2 linked regions of the Homo sapiens genome follow. The protein of the gene in region 2 interacts with the protein of the main gene of each other region in a pairwise test. Each region holds a gene or a part of one and is shown on either strand. Other genes may lie near its edges.

What was found. Proteins that work in one complex are often made in the same cells at the same time.
Region 1: the proteins of ZFHX3 (region 2) and LMNB2 interact in binary tests that used the Homo sapiens proteins (3 or more experiments, as listed by UniProt).

What each region holds. Positions count from the first base shown.
Region 1 is NC_000019.10:2,431,994-2,439,993, reverse strand, and holds part of LMNB2 (lamin-B2), read left to right. Parts: intron 1-1,462; coding exon 1,463-1,619; intron 1,620-1,705; coding exon 1,706-1,831; intron 1,832-4,822; coding exon 4,823-4,993; exon of another isoform or gene 4,994-5,080; coding exon 5,081-5,206; intron 5,207-5,478; coding exon 5,479-5,699; intron 5,700-5,888; coding exon 5,889-6,168; intron 6,169-7,470; coding exon 7,471-7,578; intron 7,579-8,000. UniProt on the Homo sapiens protein: Lamins are intermediate filament proteins that assemble into a filamentous meshwork, and which constitute the major components of the nuclear lamina, a fibrous layer on the nucleoplasmic side of the inner nuclear membrane.
Region 2 is NC_000016.10:72,792,201-72,800,944, forward strand, and holds part of ZFHX3 (zinc finger homeobox protein 3), read right to left. Parts: intron 7,930-8,744; coding exon 7,827-7,929; intron 6,515-7,826; coding exon 1,055-6,514; intron 1-1,054.

The sequences.
Region 1 (8,000 bases), on a different chromosome or scaffold from region 2:
TTGGAGGCCGAGGCGGGCAGATCACCTGAGGTTGGGAGTTCGAGACCAGCCTGGCCAACATGGAGAAACCCCATCTCTACTAAAAATAAAAAATTAGCGGACGCTGGTGGCGCATGCCTGTAATCCCAGCTACACAGGAGGCTGAGGCAGGAGAATTGTTTGAACCCGGGAGGCGGAGGTTGCAGTGAGCCGAGATCACGCCATTGCAATCCAGCCTGGGCAACAAGAGCGAAACTCCAACTCAAAAAAAAAAAAAGGCTCTAGGGAGAGTCGGGAGTGCATTCTGCTGGGCAGGAGAGGTCCCTGTCACTTCTGACCTCTGGCCACGGGCTCGAGCCGCCTGGATGTGGATGTTCTTTGAATGTCCAGCCAGCAGCCTTGGCTGTGTTATTCCAGATACACCCAGTTGTCCCCATCCTGGGGTGATTCTGTCCCCAGGGGACACTGGGTGATTCCTGGGGACACTTGTGGTTGTCAAAACTGGGCAGCAAGAAGCTCCTGGTCTGAAGTGGGTGGAGGCCAGGGACAGTGCTCAGCACCCTGCAGTGCCTAGGACCACCCCAAATGTCAGCAGTTGTGACGCTGCGGAACCCTGGATGTCCTCACTCGACCACCCCAAATGTCAGCAGTTGTGACGCTGCAGAACCCTGGGTGCCCTCACTCAAGACCACCCCAGATGTCAGCAGTTGTGACGCTGCGGAACCCTGGGTGTCCTCACTGTTTCTTGGGAGGATATAGTTAGTTCCCTGTCGGGAGGGGGTAAAATTCAGCTCCAAGACTTATAATTATGCTTAAAAACATTTAAGAGTCAGCCGTACGCGGTGGCTCGCACCTGTAATCCCAGCACTTTGGGAGGCTGAGACAGGAGGATTCCTTGAGCCCAGGAGTTCGAGACCAGCCTGTGCAAACAAGTGAACCCCTGTCTCTTAAAAAAAAAAAAAAAAAAAAAAAAAAAAAAGCTTAAGTGCCTACAATCCACACTGGTAGTATTTGTGTGTTTAAAAAGCCTGAGTATTTGCTATCTTAAATATCTAATGTTGGAGCTAATTTGGTTTAGTGGAAAACCAGGTGAGCCTGCTTCAGACAGCTTAAGTTTACAAACAAGGCTGACCCTTCAAAGGCCAGGGTCTTTGTAACATTTACAGAGGATGCATTAATTTCTCCCCAAATGGTCGTCCTGGGTCCAGAACAGGCAGGAGAGGCTGGGAAAGCCCATGCCTCCAGGGTGGTCCCAAGCGCTGGTGCCTGTCACTTGCTGGACTCCTGACAGTGCAGGGCAGATGATGAGGGCACGTGTGCCTTTGCCTGGGCGCGTGGGGCCGCGTCGTCTGCAGGACGGGAAGGTCTGGGGCTCGGAGGCCTCGGTGACCTTGTCTTTGGGCTTGCCTGACGCCCCCTGAGGTGCTCCCTGTGGCCCCATGGACCTTGCCCCTCCCCACTCACTTGCCCTCTTGACTTTCAGCGCCAAGAAGAGGGAGGGCGAGCTTACGGTGGCCCAGGGCCGTGTGAAGGACCTGGAGTCCCTGTTCCACCGGAGCGAGGTGGAGCTGGCAGCTGCCCTCAGCGACAAGCGCGGCCTGGAGAGTGACGTGGCTGAGCTGCGGGCCCAGCTGGCCAAGGTAGGTGCCAGGAGCCACGGGACGCCCCAGCAGGGTATATGCAACAGACAGATTGTCACACCAGCTCGCTGTCCTGTGTCTCCCAGGCCGAGGACGGTCATGCAGTGGCCAAAAAGCAGCTGGAGAAGGAGACGCTGATGCGTGTGGACCTGGAGAACCGCTGCCAGAGCCTGCAGGAGGAGCTGGACTTCCGGAAGAGTGTGTTCGAGGAGGTGAGTGAGTGGCCTGGCCTCCAGCCTGGCACAGCGGAAACGCAAAGTCCACCCTCATGGCTGTGGAGGGCGGAAGCCTGAGGGCACCGTGTGGCCGGGGTCCCTCCCACGGCTCTAGGGAGGCTCCTTCCTGCCTCTTAGGGTGCCCTTGGCTTCGGCTGCGTCTCCCCAGTGTCTGCCTCTGTCTTCCCGCGGCTGCCTCCCCTGTGTCCATACTCTGTGTATCCTACAAGGACACTTGTCATTGGATTTGGGGCCTGCCTGGATCATCCAGAGTGACCTAATGGCATCTGCAGAGACCCCATTTCCAAATAAGGTCCATTCACAGCTGCTGGGGATCGGGATGTGGGCACGTCTTTTTTTGAGATGGAGTTTCACTCTGTCACCCATGCTGGAGTGCGGTGGCACGATCTTGGCTCACTGCAACCTCCGCCTCCCAGGTTCAAGCAATTCTCCTGCCTCAGCCTCCCGAGTAGCTGGATTATAGGCGTGCACCACCATGCCCAGGTAATTTATGTATTTTTAGTAGAGACGAGGTTTCACCACGTTGGCCAGGCTGGTCTCGAACTCCTGACCTCAGGTGCTTCATCCGCCTCGGCCTCCCAAACTGCTGGGATTCCAGGCGTGAGTCACCATGCCCAGCCAAAACATATCTCTTCAGTGTCAAGGAAGGTCTATTTTGATTTCTTGCCTTTCTAAAAGCTTGGTGTTCCCACCCTGAGAGCTGAACCCTGGCCGCCTGGGATCCTAACTGCTAGACCATGAGGCAGGCGTCAGGTGCATCTTCTGGGTGCCACCGTCCAGCCTCCCACAGGGCCTCCTTGTCCAAAGCGAGGGTGAGGCCCGCTCTCCCCACCCAGCCTCCTTCCCTGACCTGCAGCCCCTCACCTGGGGCCTCTGCCTCCGGGGGCTCGGAGAGGGGAGTGGGGAGGAAAGGCGTCAGCCTGTGTCCTTTAGAACCAATTGTGCTGTCACAGTGCAGGGTGGAATGCCGGGGCCGGCCGGGCCCACACTCCCTGCCCAGGGAGAGCTGCTGGCTGCTGGTGGAGGGATGTCCAGGCCGCTCAGGAGCTGCGCCCCGCTCTGGCCAGGCCCAGGGAGTGGGGGGGGCCCCACAGGAGCCAGAGGGGAGGCCGCCAGGGCAGTTGTGAAGGGGCCTGTGGGGAAACCTGTGAGACAGCCCGTGAAGAGACTCACGAGAGCTTCTGTGCGGGGGCCCAGGAACGTGCCCCAGGTGGAACCCACAGGGCACCTGGGAAAAGACCCACGAAGGCGGTGCAGGGGCCGGGAAGAGGCCCTGGAGGGGCCCTCACAGGGAGCTGCGGTAGGGAGCTTGATGATGCAGGCCTGTGCAGCCCACAGGGTGCGGAGTCCTGGAGAGGGCGGCCGTGGGGGCGGAAGGGCGGCCGTGGAGGTGGGTGCGCGGCTGTGGTGGCGGGAGGGCGGCCGTGGAGGTGGGTGCGCGGCCGTGGTGGCGGGAGGGTGGCCGTGGAGGCGAGAGGGCGGCCGTGGAGGTGGGTGCGCGGCTGTGGGGGTGGGAGGGCGGCAGTGCAGGTGGGTGAGCGGCCGTGGAGGTGGGTGCGCAGCCGTGAAGGCGGGAGGGCGGCTGTGCAGGCGGGTGCGCGGCCGTGGAGGCGGGAGGGCGGCCGTGGAGGTGGGTGCGCGGCCCGCAGGGCTCTGCTTGCCTGGGCTACCCGCCTTGCTGACTGCAAAGGTGGCCAGCTTCCTTCAGAAGCGTTTCTACTGTTTTTGTTTTGTTTTGTTTTGTTTTGTTTTGTTTTTGAGATGGAGTCTTGCTCTGTTGCCCACACTGGGCCCAGCCTCCCGAGTAGCTGGGATTATAGGTGCACAGCACCACACCCAGCTAATTTTTTTCTTTTGAGACGGAGTCTTGCTCTGTCACCCAGGCTGGAGTACGGTGGCATGATCTCAGCTCACTGCAACCTCCGCCTCCTGGGTTCAAGCGATTCTCCTGCCTCAGCCTCCTGAGTAGCTGGGATTATAGGCGGGTGCCACCAACCCGACTAATTTTTGTATTTTTAGTACAGACGGGGTTTTCACCATGTTTGTCAGGCTGGTCTTGAACTTCTGACCTCATGATCCACCTGTCTTAGCCTCCCAAAGTGCTGGGATTACAGGCTTGAGCCACTGTGCCCGGCCTAATTTTTGTATTTTTAATAGAGATGGGGTTTCACCATGTTGGCTAGGCTGGTCTCGAACTCCTGACCTCGTGATCTGCCTGCCTCAGCCTCCCAAAGTGCTGGGATTACAGGCATGAGCCACCACGCCTGGCCCGCTTTCTTCAATAATGGCTTTTATAAGAGAGAGTCACTTTTTTTTTTTTTGAGACGCAGTCTCACTTTGTTACCCAGGTTGGAGTGCAATGGTGCGATCCTGGCTCACTGCAACCTCCCAAGGTCAAGCGATTCTCTTGTCTCAGCCTCCTGAGTAGCTGGGACCACAGGTGCCCGCCACCACACCTGGCTATTTTAAGTCCACCTTTTTAAAGTGTACAGTTCAGCATTGGCAGGATCTCCACAGGGTTGTGCAACCACCACCTCTAATTCTAGAACATTCCATCACCCAAAAAGAACCCCCTCCCCATCAGCAGTCCCCAGCCCTGGCCCCCACGCATCCCCTCCCTGTCTCTGTGGATGGGCCTGTCCTGGACATTTCAGGACATTTCATGGAAATGGGATCACGCACCGTGTGGCCTTTTGTGTCTGGCGTCTCTCATTGAGTGTGACGTCCTCAAGGTGCATCCATGCTGTGGCGGTGTCAGAGCCTCGCTCCTTTTCGTGGCTGAGTCACGTTCTAGCGCGTGGACGGCCCCTGGGTCGCCTCTCACCTGCACGTGTATCGGTTTGTAACTTGTGCACAAGGAACCAGGAATTGCCTGGAGGTTCCTCTTGGCACATTTTTGAGCCCTCCCTTGGGCCTGGTGCTTGGGGCCCAGGCGGGACCAGAGGGTCACGAAGCCTTGGTCCGCAGGAGGTGCGGGAGACGCGGCGGCGGCACGAGCGGCGCCTGGTGGAGGTGGACAGCAGCCGGCAGCAGGAGTACGACTTCAAGATGGCACAGGCGCTGGAGGAGCTGCGGAGCCAGCACGACGAGCAAGTGCGGCTCTACAAGCTGGAGCTGGAGCAGACCTACCAGGCCAAGGTGTGGCCGGCAGGCGGGTGGGCGGGGGCGGCCGGTGGGAACCCCGCCCCGCCCCGCGCCCGCACTCACCCGCCCGTCTCCCCACAGCTGGACAGCGCCAAGCTGAGCTCTGACCAGAACGACAAGGCGGCCAGTGCGGCTCGCGAGGAGCTGAAGGAGGCCCGCATGCGCCTGGAGTCCCTCAGCTACCAGCTCTCCGGCCTCCAGAAGCAGGTGATGAGCACAGCGCCACCGTCTGCCGTCCCCCTGGCCCAACTTCTGGGCCCTGCCCTGGATGTGCGGGGCGTGGGGCTCTGGCCTCTTGGCATCGGATGCAGCCCTCGGGGCGCCCAGCGATGCCCCTTCCCTCCCCTCCCGTGCGCCCCATGCCCAGGCCTGGTCTCTGCCCCAGTCTGTGGTGAGGGCCCATCTCCCGCAGTCCCAGGATCACCTGGGCCTTGTGACCCATGGGCTGCCCTGACCTTCGCCACCCGCCCCCTCCGCAGGCCAGTGCCGCTGAAGATCGCATTCGGGAGCTGGAGGAGGCCATGGCCGGGGAGCGGGACAAGTTCCGGAAGATGCTGGACGCCAAGGAGCAGGAGATGACGGAGATGCGGGACGTGATGCAGCAGCAGCTGGCCGAGTACCAGGAGCTGCTGGACGTGAAGCTGGCCCTGGACATGGAGATCAACGCCTACCGGAAGCTCCTGGAGGGCGAGGAGGAGAGGTGCGGCAGGCCAGGAGGCTTGGGAGCACAGAGTGAGGAGGAGGGGCAGGGCAGGAGGAGAGGCGGGACGGGGCTGCGGGGAGTGCTGGGCAGGGGTGGAGGTGGGGCCGGGCCGTGGCCGCCACTCTGCGTGCCCTGGGCTGTCTGGGGCTCCCACTACCAGTCCCACCTTCCTTGCCTTCCCCACAGGCTGAAGCTGTCCCCCAGCCCATCCTCGCGCGTCACCGTCTCACGAGCCACCTCGAGCAGCAGCGGCAGCTTGTCCGCCACCGGGCGCCTGGGCCGCAGTAAGCGGAAGCGGCTGGAGGTGGAGGAGCCCTTGGGCAGCGGCCCAAGCGTCCTGGGCACGGGCACGGGTGGCAGCGGTGGCTTCCACCTGGCCCAGCAGGCCTCGGCCTCGGGTAGCGTCAGCATCGAGGAGATCGACCTGGAGGGCAAGTTTGTGCAGCTCAAGAACAACTCGGACAAGGTGACCGGAAAGACCGGGGCATGGGGGTAACGGGGTGACCCAGCTGATGGGGGTGACCAGGGTCAGGGTGACGGGGCTGCCGGCCAATGCGAGGCAGGGGACAAGGTGACCGGAATGACCGGGGCATGGGGGTAACGGGGTGACCCAGCTGATGGGGGTGATCAGGGTCAGGGTGACGGGGCCGCCGGCCAATACGAGGCAGGGGACAAGGTGACCGGAATGACCGGGGCATGGGGGTAACGGGGTGACCCAGCTGATGGGGGTGACCAGGGTCAGGGTGACGGGGCCGTCGGCCAATGCGAGGCAGGGGACAAGGTGACCGGAATGACCGGGGCATGGGGGTAACGGGGTGACCCAGCTGATGGGGGTGACCAGGGTCAGGGTGACGGGGCTGTCGGCCAATGCGAGGCAGGGGACAAGGTGACCGGAATGACTGGGGCATGGGGGTAACGGGGTGACCCAGCTGATGGGGGTGATCAGGGTCAGGGTGACGGGGCCGCCGGCCAATACGAGGCAGGGGACAAGGTGACCGGAATGACCGGGGCATGGGGGTAACGGGGTGACCCAGCTGATGGGGGTGATCAGGGTCAGGGTGACGGGGCCGCCGGCCAATACGAGGCAGGGGACAAGGTGACCGGAAAGACCGGGGCATGGGGGTAACGGGGTGACCCAGCTGATGGGGGTGACCAGGATCAGGGTGACGGGGCCGCCGGCCAATGCGAGGCAGGGGACAAGGTGACTGGAATGACCGGGGCATGGGGGTAACGGGGTGACCCAGCTGATGGGGGTGATCAGGGTCAGGGTGACGGGGCCGCCGGCCAATGCGAGGCAGGGGACAAGGTGACCGGAAAGACCGGGGCATGGGGGTAACGGGGTGACCCAGCTGATGGGGTGACCAGGGTCAGGGTGACGGGGCCGCCGGCCAATGCGAGGCAGGGGACAAGGTGACCGGAAAGACCGGGGCATGGGGGTAACGGGGTGACCCAGCTGATGGGGTGACCAGGGTCAGGGTGACGGGGCTGCCGGCCAATGCGAGGCAGGGGACAAGATGACTGGAAAGACCGGGGCACAGGGGTAATGGAGTGACCTAGCTGATGGGGGTGACCAGGGTCAGGGTGACAGGGCCGCCGGTCAGGACGAGGCAGGGGACAAGGTGACTGGAATGACCAGGGCATGGGGGTAATGGGGTGACCTAGCTGGTGGGGGTGACCAGGGTCAGGGTGATGGGGCCACCAGCCAGGGCGATGGGGGCGGTGTCACAGTCCTGGTGGCTGAGGGTCAGGTGTGTGCCGTGTCTTCCAGGATCAGTCTCTGGGGAACTGGAGAATCAAGAGGCAGGTCTTGGAGGGGGAGGAGATCGCCTACAAGTTCACGCCCAAGTACATCCTGCGCGCCGGCCAGATGGTCACGGTAGGTGGTGGGGCAGGAGGGCGAGGGTGGCCACGGATGGGGTGTGAGGTGGGGTCAGGGGACTGGAGGCACAGGACTTGGCGGGGGTGGGTGGGGATGATGGTGGCACCAGGCACCGTCTCAGAGCGGCTGCCGCAGTCATAGAACCTCCATGTGCTGGTGTCACCCCACTGGGCCTCCCTGGAGCCTGAGTGGTGTGCCCTGGGTCTGAGTCCAGGCTGCTGGGGCTGGCAGGCGTCCCCGTGAAGTGTTAACAGTCAGGCGCATGGGCCATGGAGCCTGGTGGGTGTCAGATCCCAGTTCAGCCCCTGCTTGCCAAGAGCCCTTGGCCTCTGTGAACCCTGGTCTCTTCTTGTGTATCCTGGGGACCATCACCCTGGATAAGCCTGCGTCGGGCTGGAAGGACTGAACGCCCAGGGCAT
Region 2 (8,744 bases):
ACTATAAGAGCAACAAATATGTATGATTCTCAGTGATCAGGAGCAAGGAAAAGGAAATGGGCAAAAGGAAAAAAAAGAGGTGACTGAGGACCTCTGAAATGTGCATCAGTATTTTAACAGAACCACATTGCCCAATACAAGATTCCTGGTCAGTGCACTCAAGTAGAACGGCCATCTTGTTAAAAACAGCCACTATTGTTCTGGCTAGAAGAGAACCCCAACATTAAGGATCTACCACATAAGACCTTCTGGTAGTTCTTTTTTTTTTCTTTTTTTGAGACAGTCTCGCTGTGTCACCCAGGCTGGAGTGCAGTGGCACAATCTCAAACCACTGTCTGCCTCCAGGGTTCAAGCGATTCTCCTGCCTCAGCCTCCCGAATAGCTGGGACTATAGGTGCATACCACCACACTTGGGTAATTTTTGTATTTTTAGTAGAGATGGGGTTTCACCATGTTGGCCAGGCTGGTCTCGATTTCCTGACCTTGTGATCTGCCCGCCTCGGCCTCCCAAAGTGCTGGGATTACAGGCATGAACCACTGCACCCGGCCCTGATAGCAGTTCTTTTGCCACCGTAGCTCTCTCAAGAAGGCAGGGACCCCAGGTGAGGGCAAAGAGTTGATTTAAATGCTCTTGGACCAGTTTTCTTAGGGCATAATCCAGAATTAGCTAGGACTAACTCAGGTGTCTTATATTTACAACAAATATCTAGACAGGATCAGCATTTCCACAAGGACTGAATGAAAGGGTCTATGATAAAAACTTGTTTCTTGAAATATTCCAGAAATTAGTATGCCAGGACCCTCAAGTTTTTCCCTATTATAGGGGATAAGAGTGGTTTCAAAGGAGACTGTTCCGACCAGGAGGTCCCATCCCTGACACACCAGTACTTGGGAGACTCAACAGGAACGAACTGAAGTCTTGTTGCTTTTAAAGAACTAGAAAGGTAAGCTTCCCATCTGCCCAGCACTCAGAGGGTTTGGGTGGTATCCACATAACAGAATGCTGACTGGGCAGCTATTTAGCCCTGAAACAATCGCCTAGAGCAGAACCCACCTGTGTTGGATGGAGTAAAGCCTGGCAAGGAGGGGCTGTTGAGGCCCGGGAGCAACACAGGAGGAATGCCCTGGAGCGCTGGATATGCTGTAGGAAGGTTAAGGGCCTGAAGAGGGGTGTTGTCAAACATCCCTTGCTGCTGAGCTGCCAGTCCAAGGACCTCGTTGGCCTTTTTAATCCGGTCCAACTCTTGTTGAGCCATCAACTGACGTACGGTGGCTGGGTCAAAGTATTCTTTCTCCTTGTCCAGCTGGCTTCCAATGGTGTCTTTAACTTTGGAGATATGCTGTTGGGAAAAGATATGGTCACGTACAGACAGCCGAGCGCTGTACTTGATGCCACACAAAGTGCACTCTGTTTTGGGTCCCTCATAACTCGTTTGGTTTATACCAAAATGCTTGGCCATGCTTAACTTGGACTTCTTTTCTTTTGCCCGGGCATTCTGGAACCAGACCTGAACGACTCTCTTTGGCAGTCCAATGTCATTGCCCAGGACCTCACATTCTAGCATAGTGGGTGTCCTGTAGTCATTAAAGCATGACTTGAGGACCTTCAGCTGCAGATTGGTCATTTGAGTGCGAAAACGTTTCTGCCCAGGCCGATCTCCGCTGTCACCAGATTTGCCTGCAGATCCACTCGCACCAGGACTCGGGGAGCAGGGATCTGCAAGGCTTGAGGTTTCACTGTAGTCCACTGTACCTTCATTGTCATATTCCTTGCTATAAAAGCTCGGGGCCGGGCTGACCAGACCAGATGACAACCGATCTTCATACTCAGACATTGCCATCATGGCCGCTTTGGTCAACCCTTCGTTGGGTGCAGAAGAGGATTTGGTTTCAGTTGCTATTCCCGTTGCACTGTCGTTATCTGCGTTGCCCTCGTCTCCAGTTGTGGTATCTGTGATTGCTGTGTTGACAGAGGAACAGTCATCGTTGTCCAGCTTAGTTTGGTCAAAGTTTAGATTAACTGAGGACATGGAGGGGCTTTCAAAGTCTTCAATCCCTTCCACCTTAATGGAGGAAGGGCTTAGAAGAGTTCTGGGTGACAATTCCATGGTTTTACTCACAGGTGAGAGGGGGACACCCTGACCATCACTACTGCTTGGGGGTAGGTGGGAAAAGCTAGTTCCGTCAAAAATATCTCCTTTCATCTGGAGTCCCCCATCACAGTCTAAGAGCATCGCAGACAGAGTTAGGTTGTAGCCAGCTCTCTTGGCTTCATGCCAGTGACGGGACCGGATATGAGCCTCAAGAGCAGTCTTGGCTTTGAAGAGCGCTCTGCAAAAAGGGCATCTCCTGTGGGCCTGCGCTGGGCCTACAGCCCGGAACTGTCCTTTCCTTTCCCGAGCTCGGGTGTTCTGAAACCAGACTTGTACCACACGTTTCTTCAAGCCCACCTCGTGTGCAATGTGATCCAACATCTTTCGAGTCGGATTGGAATCCAGTAGATACTTCTGGTAGAGAATTTCTAGTTGTTCCGGTGTGATGGTTGTTCTCAAACGCTTGTCTCTCTGAGGCTCTTCTCCTCCTGTCCCACTGTCGTTTTCGCCAGGGCTTGCACTGGCCTTTTCCTCCAGCTTCCTCTTGAGAGTGTTCATTGTGGAGGTTGGAGTTGAAGGAGAAGTGGCTGAGCTTGCTGGAATCTGAGGTATGGCCCCAGAGAGCAGCTGGCTGGCCAGGAGTGGGTTACTGGGATCAAAGAGCATGAAAGGCATATCCAGGGACCTGTCCAAAAACTGGGGGTGGATGAACTGGTTCTGCGCGCTCAGGAAGTGGAGCTGCTGATGCTCCTGCCAGTGCTCAAATGACGGAAATGCCAACTTACACTGGTCACACTGGTAGGGGATTAGCTGAGGAGGTAGGTTTGCGAGCTGTTGAGGAGTTGATGTGTGGAGGGGCTTGAGGGGCAGGTGGGAGAGCTGGGAAGGACTGGGGCTCGACTGGGGTAAGGGGCACTGTGGAGGGGGCGCTTGTGGAGGAGGCTGTGGCAACGAAGGCAGGGACACCAGCTGGGGGAGCTTCTGCTGGGGAGTGTTGGTCTTCTGCTCGGGCTGCTCTTGCTGCTGCAGCTCTGGCTTTGGTTGTCCTTGCTTTTCTTGGGTTTGGTTTGGCTGTGCACTGGGAGCTTCCGCCAGCTTTGGTTTCTCATCGCCTGCCTCTGTTTTTGAATTGAAGGTGGCCAGTTCCTCAGCCTCCGCTGTAAGCTGCAAGAAAGCGGAGGAAGCTGTATTATTGGCTGATGGTGCTGGGGCGCTGTAAGCCTGTGAGGGCATCGGGGTACTGCAGGATGAGCTGGTAGGCGTCAGGATTTCCATGGCATCCATGGAATCCTCATTTTGGCTGTCGTCCTGCCCCTCCTCATCCTCATCCTTGTAACACAGCTTCTTCTGGTGCTTGATGAGATCAAAGATGCGCTGAAACACCAGGCTACATTTTTTGCACTGGTAGTTCAAGTTGCTTGTTCGAATGTATCTATCATTTGTAAGCTCACGCCGCTCTCCATCTTTGCCCTCTCCCTGATTCTCATAATTCTTCCTGGCCTTCTGTCGGGCATTCTGAAACCACACCACTATCACTCGGGTTGGAAGGTTCAGTAAATTAGAGAGTTGCTCAAATTCATCATCCTTTGGGTAAGCATTGGCATCGAAGAAGTCCTGTAAGACCCTCAGCTGGTAGTCCGTAAACCTTGTTCTTGAAGACCTCTTGCTTCCCCAGTACTCCTGCTTTGGAGGTTCCGGCGAAGGGGGCCGGGAGTCAATCTTGAGCTCCTCCAGGCTGGTGATAGGAGGATTACTGAAGTTGTAAGGGGAGTCCTTGTTACGCTGCCTCTCTTTGAAGAGAGTGTTCCTGAACCAGTGCTTGATCACTTTCTGGGGCAACCCGGACTTGTCTGCCATCTCTTTTATTTGCTCTTCACTGGGGGAGTTGTTAATGTCAAAATATTGCCGCAAGACTCGGAGCTGATCATCTGTGATCCTGGTGCGAGGCCTCTTGTTCTGCTGCTGGAGCAGGGTTGGATTGAGCTGATGCTGGTAGAGTTGGGCCAGGTCCGCAGGCAGAGGCTCCACAGGTCCCAGCTGCGGGGGTAGCTGAGCCGGCAAGGTCTGCAGCGGCATCGTCTGCATCATCAGCGGCGAGAAGATGGGCAGCTCCATCGGCATGGAGAGCTGGGTGAGCGGCACTGATGGCTGGGCCGGTGCAATTGTAGGTGAGGTGATGGGTGGGGCTGATGCGGGGATGGCTGGTGTGGACGCCGGCTGAGGCGGCGCTGCCGGAAGTGGGGGTGGAGGGGGTGGAGGGGGAGGTGGTGGTGGCTCTGGGGTCTGGGGCCTCAGTGGGTACAGTTTATCGTAGTGGTCTCTGTACTGTTTGGCAAACCTCTCGAGCTGTTTGAAAGGAAAGTAATTCTGATGAACGTGCTCTTGATGACTCTTTAAAATCAAGATGTTGGAAAACAACTTGCCGCAGGAGTCACACTCGAGCTTTTCCAGGTTCTCTCCCTGGTCAGTCTTCCCATTCTTTTTCTGCACCTTCTGCTTGTTCTCATTATACTGGATGACCAACTCAAAGCCAAAGTTCTCCAGCAGGGCCTTGGTGGCGTTCCCTCTGGCATCTGAAGCAATGCGTGGAGGGAGCATGGAAGGCTCAGAACCACCCCCTGGTGCCAACTCTTTCTTCTCTTTGGCCTTCAAGGCATCTGGCAGTGTTTCCTTCGGACCGGTGTTGCCCTCTCCCCCCTCGGCGCTGTCCCTCTCTCTCTGGCTTTCTTTTTCCTTTTCTTTGATGACCAATTTGTTCTTCTTTTCGGGGTGCTGGCTTGGCTGAAGGAGGGCAGAGTGACTCTGGGCTATAGAGAGTTGGTTCTGCTGCTGCTGCGGCAAGATCTGCTGATGGCTCTGCTGTGGGACCTGAACCTGAGCCTTCAGATCTTCCAGCAGGCCTGGGCCTGTCCCAGTCAGTGTCAGTGCCCCACTGGTCACTGGCAAGCTCACCTCGGGGTTAAGCTGGAACTCAGCACTGGGGATGTAGAAAGGGAAGAGGAGGTGCTGCTGCTGCTGTAGTTGCAGCAGGGTCTCAGTTGTCATGGGGAAGTGAGGAAGGAGGGTGGGGTTAAACAGCTGAGACTGGATCAGGGCAGCCTGTTGCTGCAGCTCCTGCTGCAGGTGAGCTTGAACTTGAGCCTGGGCCTGGGCCAGCGTTTGTGCTTGTTGTTGTTGTTGTTGTTGTTGTTGTTGCTGTTGCTGCTGCTGTTGTTGCTGCTGCCTGGATGCAATCATATCTGCCAGTTTCTTCCGATTGGCCTCTTTGGGCTCTGAAGGGGAAGCAATGTTGGCACCAATAGGATTCCCCAGGGGTGGCATCCCTACACTCTCAGTGGGCACTTGGCTTAGTAAGTTAGAGCTTGGAGCAATGCCAGCACTGCTTGGATTGGAGGTGGTAAAGGTGTTACTGCCACTGGTGCTCACAGGACTTGGCGTGGAGGAGCTCAAGGAAATACTGCTGCTGTTCCCAGTCCCATTGCTGCTGCCACTTGCAGCCTCCAGCTTGGCTGCCCGGGCCTTGGTTTGATGTAACACAGACCTCATATGGATCTCCAGAGTGGAACTCTGGCTGTAGGCCACATTACAAGTGTTACACTTAAAAGGTTTGTTGTCTGGGCTGCTGGTGGGTTCTGGCTGACCGGTTGCTGATTCTTGAAGGGCTCTCTTTAACTTATGCAGGTGGGAGACAGAATTGTAGTGTACTAGCAGGATATTCTTTTGAGTGAAAGATTCCTTGCAGACGGTACACTTGTAAGGGCGAGAAGGGTCTAGGAACTTTTCCATAGTAAAATTGGGACCTTTTCTGAAAGGCAGAGCTCTCTTTGGCTCTGAGCCCGAGTCTTCTTGTACTGACCCAGAGTCACTGCCCGTTGGGCTCTGTTTATCTTCCAAGTCACTCTCTTCCTCCTTGTCTTCCTCAACAATTATGGTATGGTCCTCTGCCAGAGTGGGGTCTCCCATTGCCAGGAGGTCCCCATTGGCCAGCAGGCCACCATAAAGCTGTTGGATGTCAGCCTCACTCAGCTCCAGGTGGCTTGTCTCAAGGTGCTTCTTCAGAGCCTGGAAAGTTCGGAAACTGCGCTGACAAAGACAGCACATGGTGGCAGCTCTGATCACATGGTACTGAGAATGGAGCTGCAACTTTTCAATGGTCTTGAAGGCCAGGCTACACTGATTACAGCGGTACTTGTACACATGGCGATCTGACACCGGCAGCTGAGGCCTCTTGGCATGCACTTCATTAAAATGCGTCTGAAGGGCAGCAGAAGTTTTGAAAACCTGGTTGCACCCCTTCTTCCAGCAGATGAAGCCTGAGTCTTCTCTCACAGAGCCTGGGTCAGCAGGGGATGGTTTCAAATCTCCGCTTTGCTCTGTGCTTGCGGATGGCAAGATGTTCTTTCCCAGATCCTCTGAGGTTTCTGTTAAAAAAAAAAAAAAAATCAAACCCAAAGATAAAGAAGGCTTTGTTTCAAGGATGGCACCCAGAGCGGTCTACCTAGTCAGGCCTCATGAACACAGAATCTGATGATGAGGGAAGTGCCCAACCTGAATGACAGAATCTCTGCGGAGCGCCTCCTGCTTTCTTTTGTTCCTCCAATAGAGCACATATTATAAACAGGGTGCACATGAACAGAGATGGATAAAAGGAAATACAAAAAGTTTCAATGCATAATAGACCCATGTCATATCACAGATCTAACAGTCTTTTAAATAGCATTTAATTGCTTGACTCAGAATCCTCAATTTCTCAAGAGCTGGTTTGAAGGTTACTGATCTTAGACTGGATTTCCCTTTTATGTTCATCTTTTATGTAATAAGCATTTAGCACAGTAGATCTGAAGTGTAGAATATGTGAATTAATGCTGTCCTAAGTTGTGAGGAATTTACAAGAACTGCTGAACATCGTAATATAAGAAATTTGGGGATACATATTTTTAGGCATTTAATTTCTTGTTATAATGTGACTTCTGATTGCCATCTCTATTCAATAAGCAATTAACATTCAAGTGTTCAATTATTTAAAATACATTTTTTTCCCTACAATGAGATCATCACACTCATAAATACCGAGACCCTTTAACAGGTCATTTGTCCATTGTCTAATATGGAAAACTCACAAGAAAGAGAGAAGGCAGGACAGTAGTGTGGCCAAACTCTTCCCAACTTAGAACTCTTCCCACCTTAGAGGTGAACGATGTAGGACAGCCTCACAGAGGTCTAACCATTCATCTAGCCAGGAAACACTATGTGGCACCAACTACTGTCTACAACAATGTTCTTTCCATCAGCATCTCTGTGCTTCATCCTAAGCCAATCCCAAAAAACTCAGAACGAAAGACAACTAATCCAGTGTACCTAAAAATCAACCCACAAGTCCCTACTAATTAAGTCCTCAGAAATACAGTGTTTAATGGCTTAGAATGGTAGGGCCTACTGACTGAGTCTCTGGTTATTCACTCCCTAATTGTATAGTTTAAGAAGATGTGTGTGTCTGTGCCAGAATTCCACTGGTTCTCATACTAATTTTCTCTCACTTTAAACCATGTGAGTAATATACAAATACATGCCAAGAAGCAGAGTATAAAGTAGCTGATGACAGTGCCCCTCATCTCCTGATCAGTTACATTCACCTTAAGAGTATTGTAAAGAATTCCTGAAAACCTTTCTCCATGAACATTTTGGCATTCCATCTTGTTTCAATTTCTTGGGGTCAAGAATAATGATACTGACCAGGCTGCTTTCCTGCCTCTTCCAAATTGGAATTCCCATCTCGATCTGGAACAGCTGCTGGGAGGAACATGCTGCTTGGCATCACCATCTCAGGGGTGGTCACCTGAGGAGCAAGAGCAAGGAGAGTCAAATGGAGAGGAAAGCGACACAAAATAGGAAATGTTTAAAAATTATTTAATAAGCAAAATTAGCCTTCACCAGTGTAAAGCTAGAGGTGTCTCACTTTTCATAGCTCACTGAAGATTCATGTTTATTAGACAAAGCTCACATCAGTCAAAAGTGTTTCTACGGTTACATTCTGGACATAATTAGCAGTGCACACTTGAAGAATAATCTTCTTATTAATATTTTTCCTTTATGCAGAATTTTGACTTTGATCACTGACAATGTTTTGTCATGGGCTGTGAAACTTCTTGTGCAACCAATTAGGTAGATAAGTTGAAAGGCCCACCTTAAGCTGCTGAAAACATAATAAGGGCCCTAATTAAATCATACCTAGTAAAGTACACTGTAATCTTGAAGCAGGGAGCATTGTAGTACTGTTTTCAGAACGTATTCAGGCAAGAGGAGGAGGGGAGTAAGAGTGAAGGAAAGGGTAAGAAGAAAAGAAGAGAACAAAGGGAAGGCTAGGGACACGCAGACATGCTGGCAGATTTTCCAGGAAAACAACATTTGTAACCCTTTACAAGCTGACATCAAGCACAAACAAGCCTTTTTTTGTGACTCACTTAAGCCACGATTTCTTCTGGAGTCTCTGCCCAAGGTATACAACATCAGAGGGAACTTCTGACCAACGTCCCAGCGATAGAGGGTGGCCTGCACAGCATTCTACAACAGGGCAGCCCCACCTTGACCATGGCCATTTTTTCTCAATACAGCAGTTCTGGAAATCGCCTGGATCCAAACAGCTGCAACTTT